2 linked regions of the Homo sapiens genome follow. The protein of the gene in region 1 interacts with the protein of each later gene in a pairwise test. Each region holds a gene or a part of one and is shown in the gene's direction. Other genes may lie near its edges.

Region 1 (3,169 bases):
AAAGTGCTGGGATTACAGGCATGAGCCACCGTGCCTGGCCCCAAAATGTGCTTTGTTCTATAGAAGAAGGCTTTTTTTTTCTTTCCTTCCTCTTTTTTTTTTTTAGTTTTTGAGACAGGGCCTAACTCTGTTACCCAGACCGGAGGGCAGTGGCTCAATCTCAGCTCACTGCAACCTCAAACTCTTGGGCTCAAGTAATCCTCCCACCTCCGCCTTCTGAGAAGCTGAGGCCACCAGGCACAAGCCACCATGTCTGGCTAATGTTTTTTTTTTTTTTTTTTTCAGACGGAGTCTCGCTCTGTCGCCCATGCTGGAGTGCAGTGATGCGATCTCGGCTCACTGCAAGCTCTGCCTCCCGGGTTCACTCCATTCTTCTGCCTCAGCCTCCCGAGTGGCTGGGACTACAGGCGCATGCCGCCATGCCCGGCTAATTTTTTTTTTTTTTTTTTTAGTAGAGACGGGGTTTCACTGTGTTAGCCAGGATGGTCTCGATCTCCTGACCTCGTGATCCACCCACCTCGGCCTTCCAAAGTGCTGGGATTACAGTTGTGAGCCACCACGCCCGGCCATGCCTGGCTAATTTTTAAATTTTGTGTAGAGACAGGGTCTCGCCATGTTGCCCAGGCTAGTCTCAAAATCCTGGGCTCAATCGATCCTCCCGCCTCGGCCTCCCAAAGTGCTGGGATTACAGGTGTGAGCCACCGTGCCCAGCCCACAGTCTTATAGTGAATGAGTTTGGATATAAATTGGGGAACAAAAGTCGTTTTGCTCCAGAAGGGCACAAAAACAAGGAGCGGAGGTGTCCAGTGTGTCAGAAGAAGCCCCAAAGTGCACCATGTTCACACATAAAGCAGAGGTAGGTTCTAGGCTCTGCTAAACATAAAGGAGCTTCTCCCCTTGGAGGGTGTTTGCTGGGGCTTGAGCAAGTTATTAGGGACCCAGGACAGCTCCCCTTGTGAGCAACAAACCTGTGCACTGCTGGACATTAGGGCCTCTGGGCTCTGGCCCCGTAAATGCAGGTGGTGCCTGTTTGATGATAACATCCCAGAAAGCCCGCAAATTTCCCACATGCCACCTGTTGAGACTGCTCTACTGCCTGCCTCCCACAGCTGCCCGGAGCTAAATTTCCAAGAGAACCTCTCACTCTTACCCCAGGGGTCCAGCCTCCCCCAGGAGCCAGGGTCATCGGCCCCCAGCCTCAATGCCCCTTTCTCCTCCAGGAAACCCTGGAGGACCTGGACAGAAACAAAGATGGCTATGTCCAGGTGGAGGAGTACATCGGTGAGTGGGCCCCAATTTCTTCTTGGGATGCCTGTCCTCTCTCAGGCATGGGCAGGGTTGGTGGGGGTAGCCGGAGGTACATCACCCATCATCAGAGAACAGTGGCCCTCAGACATGGGGGCAGGGGCACTCACTGCTTGAGTTCATTTAGCCACCCAACATTTATTGAGCACCTACTCTATACCAGACACAAAAAGCATCTATTGAGCACCTGCTGTGTGTCACGCCCAGGATACACTTACTGAGCACCTACTGCATATGGGTGGTTGCGCCTACAGCAGACAATAACACAGACAAATCCCTTCTTGGGGGTCTGGAGTTTCTACAAAATCAAGGCTCAGGGGCTATGTTTAGTTGAGAATGGGGGTCAGGAAGCTGGTCTTGAACCTGCGCCTGCACAGCAAACACTGTTTCCTGTTACATGGGATGTTGGGGGATCCTCACAATACCCCCTGAGTTCTGAGTTCTCCCTGGGCCCCTGCCACTGTCCCTGCCCCTAGCGGGCAAAAAATTTAGTCAAGGAGAACGCTAACAAGGAATTTTTTTTTTTTTTTTTTTTTTTTGAGACAGTTTTTTTCTGTTGCTCAGGCTGGAGCGCGGTGGCGTGGTATCGGCTCTCTGCAACCTCCGCCTCCCGGGCTCAAGAGATTCTTCTGCCTCAGCCTCCTGAGTAGCTGGGATTACTGGTGCCTGCCACCACGCCTGGCTAATTTTTGTATTTTTAGTGGAGATGGGATTTCACCATGTTGGCCAGGCTGGTCTAGAACTCCCAACCTCAGGTGATCTGCTCATCTTGGCCTCCCAAAGTGGTGGGATTACAGGCGTGAGCAACCACGCCCGGCCAGGAATTTTTTTTTAAGTTTGAAAACATTGTTTATTCTTTTATTTTTTTCTGACCACATCCTACATGAGAAAACATTTTTCTTTCTTTCCTTCTCTCACTTTCTTTCTTTCTGTCACTCTTTCTTTCTATCTGTCTGTCTGTGTGTGTGTGTGTCTCTCTCTTTATTAAATAGAGATGGGTTCTCACTATATTGTCCAGGCTGGTCTAGAACTCCTGGGCTCAAGCAATCTTCCCACCTTGGCCTCCCAAAGAGCTGAGATTACAGGCATGAATCACCACACCTGGCTGAGAGAACATTTTTATATTTTTTTCTTAAGAGATGGGGTTGGGCCAGGCGCAGTGGCTCATACCTGTAATCCCAGCACTTTGGGAGGCTGAGATGGATGGATCATGAAGTCAGGAGTTCGAGACCAGCCTGGCCAAGATGGTGTACTAAAAATACAAAAATTAGCCGGGCCTGTTGGCAGGAGCCTGTAATCCCAGTTACTCTGGGGACTGAGGCAAGAGAATCTCTGGAACCCGGGAGGCAAAGGTTGCAGTGAGCTGTAATCGCGCCATTGCACTTCAGTCTGGGCAACAAGAGCGAAACTCCATCTTAAAAAAAAAAAAAAAAGATGGGGTCTTGCCCTGTCGCCCAGGCTGGAGTGCAGTGGGGTGATCTTGGCTCACTGCAGCCTTGACCTCCTGGGCTCAAGGGATCCTCCCACCTCAGCCTCCCAAGTAGCTGAGACTCCAGGCACAGTGCGGCCTCTGGAGATACTTCTGGTTGTCACTTCTAGAGGGGTGAGGATGCTACTGACGTCTCCTGGATAGAGCCCAGAGATGCTCCTTAGCATTCTCCGGTGCACAGGACAGGCCCTGACAACAAGGAGGTCACAGGCCCCAGATGCCAGCAGCTGTCCCCATCTCTTTTTTTTTTTTTTTGAGACAGAGTCTCGCTATTGTCGCCCAGGCTGGAGTGCAGTGGCATGATCTCGGCTCACTGCAACCTCCGCCTCCCAGGTTCAAGCAATTCTCTTGTTTCAGCCTCCTGAGTAGGTGGGA
Region 2 (3,604 bases), on another chromosome or scaffold:
GCTTGGGATTCATTGAATGAATCTAATAAGTTCTTGGTCACAGCTGATCCTAAGTCTGAAAATATTTATGACTACCTAGACAGCTCAGAGCCAGCAGAGAATGAGAATAAGTCAAACCCATTCTGTGACAATCAACAAAGCAGCCCTGATCCCTGGACTTTCTCACCATTAACGGAGACTGAAATGCAGATTACAGCAGTGGAGAAGGAGAAGAGATCTTCTCCAGAAACAGGGACAACAGGAGATGTTGCATGGCAAATATCTCCCAAAGCTTCGTTCCCAAAGAACGAAGATAATTCTCAACTGGAAATGCTGGGCTTCTCAGCTGATAGCACTGAGTGGTGGAAGGCCTCACCCCAGGAAGGGAGACTAATTGAAAGTCCATTTGAAAGGGAGCTGTCTGACTCCAGTGGTGTGTTGGAGATAAATTCTTCAGTACACCAAAATGCCAGTCCCTGGGGAGTACCAGTTCAGGGTGATATTGAGCCCGTGGAAACACACTATACTAATCCTTTTAGTGACAACCATCAGTCACCCTTTCTGGAAGGTAATGGGAAGAACTCCCATGAGCAACTCTGGAACATTCAACCAAGGCAGCCAGACCCAGATGCTGACAAGTTCAGCCAGCTTGTAAAATTAGACCAAATTAAAGAAAAGGACTCAAGAGAGCAAACCTTTGTGTCTGCTGCTGGTGATGAGCTGACTCCTGAAACACCTACCCAAGAGCAGTGTCAGGACACCATGCTGCCAGTCTGTGATCATCCGGACACAGCCTTTACTCACGCAGAGGAAAATAGTTGTGTTACATCTAATGTTTCAACTAATGAAGGTCAAGAAACAAATCAGTGGGAACAAGAAAAATCATACCTAGGTGAGATGACAAATTCAAGCATTGCCACAGAAAATTTTCCTGCTGTCAGTTCTCCCACCCAACTGATAATGAAGCCAGGCTCTGAATGGGATGGCTCTACCCCAAGTGAGGACTCCCGAGGTACCTTTGTGCCAGATATTTTACATGGCAACTTTCAAGAGGGTGGGCAGCTGGCCTCTGCCGCGCCTGACTTGTGGATAGATGCTAAGAAGCCCTTCAGTTTGAAAGCAGATGGTGAGAATCCTGATATCCTGACGCACTGCGAACATGACAGCAATTCTCAGGCTTCCGACAGCCCTGATATATGTCACGATTCTGAAGCAAAGCAAGAGACTGAGAAGCACCTCAGTGCTTGCATGGGACCTGAAGTGGAATCCAGTGAGCTTTGTCTCACTGAGCCAGAGATAGATGAAGAACCCATTTATGAGCCTGGACGGGAGTTTGTCCCATCCAATGCAGAACTCGATTCTGAAAACGCAACTGTGCTGCCTCCAATTGGCTATCAAGCAGACATAAAGGGCTCCTCTCAGCCCGCCTCTCATAAAGGTTCACCTGAACCTTCTGAAATAAACGGTGACAACAGTACAGGTTTACAAGTATCAGAAAAAGGAGCCAGCCCAGATATGGCACCAATTTTGGAACCAGTTGACAGAAGAATCCCAAGGATTGAAAATGTGGCAACTAGCATTTTTGTAACTCACCAAGAGCCAACTCCAGAAGGTGACGGTTCTTGGATATCAGACAGCTTTTCTCCTGAAAGTCAGCCTGGTGCAAGAGCTTTGTTTGATGGTGATCCACATTTATCCACAGAGAATCCTGCCTTGGTTCCTGATGCTTTGCTAGCCTCAGACACTTGTCTGGATATAAGCGAAGCTGCCTTTGACCACAGTTTCAGCGATGCCTCAGGTCTCAACACATCCACGGGAACAATAGATGACATGAGTAAACTGACATTATCCGAAGGCCATCCGGAAACGCCAGTTGATGGGGACCTAGGGAAGCAAGATATCTGCTCATCTGAAGCCTCGTGGGGTGATTTTGAATATGATGTAATGGGCCAGAATATCGATGAAGATTTACTGAGAGAGCCTGAACACTTCCTGTATGGTGGTGACCCTCCTTTGGAGGAAGATTCTCTGAAGCAGTCGCTGGCACCGTACACACCTCCCTTTGATTTGTCTTATCTCACAGAACCTGCCCAGAGTGCTGAAACAATAGAGGAAGCTGGGTCTCCAGAGGATGAATCTCTGGGATGCAGAGCAGCAGAGATAGTGCTTTCTGCACTTCCTGATCGAAGAAGTGAGGGAAACCAGGCTGAGACCAAAAACAGACTGCCTGGATCCCAGCTGGCTGTGCTGCATATTCGTGAAGACCCTGAGTCCGTTTATTTGCCGGTAGGAGCAGGCTCCAACATTTTGTCTCCATCAAACGTTGACTGGGAAGTAGAAACAGATAATTCTGATTTACCAGCAGGTGGAGACATAGGACCACCAAATGGTAAGAAACATTCCATTCTTCCACTTCCAAGAAACTGCTGCGTTGATTAAACTAGTGCATATTTGTAAGACACACTCTTCCTACCAATGAGGGTAGAGAGAAAACTAACTACATTTTCAAGGCATGCCTCACTAAGTCCTGTATTATAACAGCAGTAAAATCTAGTGCATATGTAATACCTATTCCTGATAGTGCACGAGAAAATCGAATGACTCTACAAAATAAAAATATTTTCTAGCTGGGCGCGGTGGCTCACGCCTGTAATCTCAGCACTTTGGGAGGCCAAGGAGGGGGGATCACCTGATGTCAGGTGTTCGAGACCAGCCTGGGCAGCATGGTGAAACCCCATGTCTACTAAAAATACAAAAATTAGCTGGGCGTGGGGGCAGGTGCCTGTAGTCCCAGCTACTCGGGAGGCTGAGGCAGAAGAATAGCTTGAAACCAGGAGGTGGAGGTTGCAGTGAGCCGAGATCACACCATTGCACTCTATCCTGGGTGACAGAGCGGGACTCTGTCTCAAATGAATGAATGAATAAATAAATAAAATATATAAAAAATATTAAATTACCTCTTTTAGATGATCATTTGCAAGGATCACAAATCACACAATGTGTTAATTAAACCTTTTTCTCCTCTTCTCACTTTCAACTTCCACTTCTAGGTGCCAGCAAGGAAATATCAGAATTGGAAGAAGAAAAAACAATTCCTACCAAAGAGCCTGAGCAGATAAAATCAGAATACAAGGAAGAAAGATGTACAGAGAAGAATGAAGATCGTCATGCACTACACATGGATTACATACTTGTAAACCGTGAAGAAAATTCACACTCAAAGCCAGAGACCTGTGAAGAAAGAGAAAGCATAGCTGAATTAGAATTGTATGTAGGTTCCAAAGAAACAGGGCTGCAGGGAACTCAGTTAGCAAGCTTCCCAGACACATGTCAGCCAGCCTCCTTAAATGAAAGAAAAGGTCTCTCTGCAGAGAAAATGTCTTCTAAAAGCGATACGAGATCATCTTTTGAAAGCCCTGCACAAGACCAGAGTTGGATGTTCTTGGGCCATAGTGAGGTTGGTGATCCATCACTGGATGCCAGGGACTCAGGGCCTGGGTGGTCTGGCAAGACTGTGGAGCCGTTCTCTGAACTCGGCTTGGGTGAGGGTCCCCAGCTGCAGATTCTGGAAGAAATGAAGCCTCTAGAATCTTTGGCACTAGAGGAAGCCTCTGGTCCAGTCAGC

What was found. Proteins that work in one complex are often made in the same cells at the same time.
Region 2: the proteins of RCN3 (region 1) and PRUNE2 interact in a two-hybrid assay, tested with the Homo sapiens proteins (one large-scale study listed by BioGRID and IntAct).

What each region holds. Positions count from the first base shown.
Region 1 is NC_000019.10:49,537,899-49,541,067, forward strand, and holds part of RCN3 (reticulocalbin-3 precursor), read left to right. Parts: intron 1-1,109; coding exon of another isoform or gene 1,110-1,220; coding exon 1,221-1,281; intron 1,282-3,169. UniProt on the Homo sapiens protein: Probable molecular chaperone assisting protein biosynthesis and transport in the endoplasmic reticulum.
Region 2 is NC_000009.12:76,703,525-76,707,128, reverse strand, and holds part of PRUNE2 (protein prune homolog 2), read left to right. Parts: coding exon 1-2,368; intron 2,369-3,029; coding exon 3,030-3,604. UniProt on the Homo sapiens protein: May play an important role in regulating differentiation, survival and aggressiveness of the tumor cells.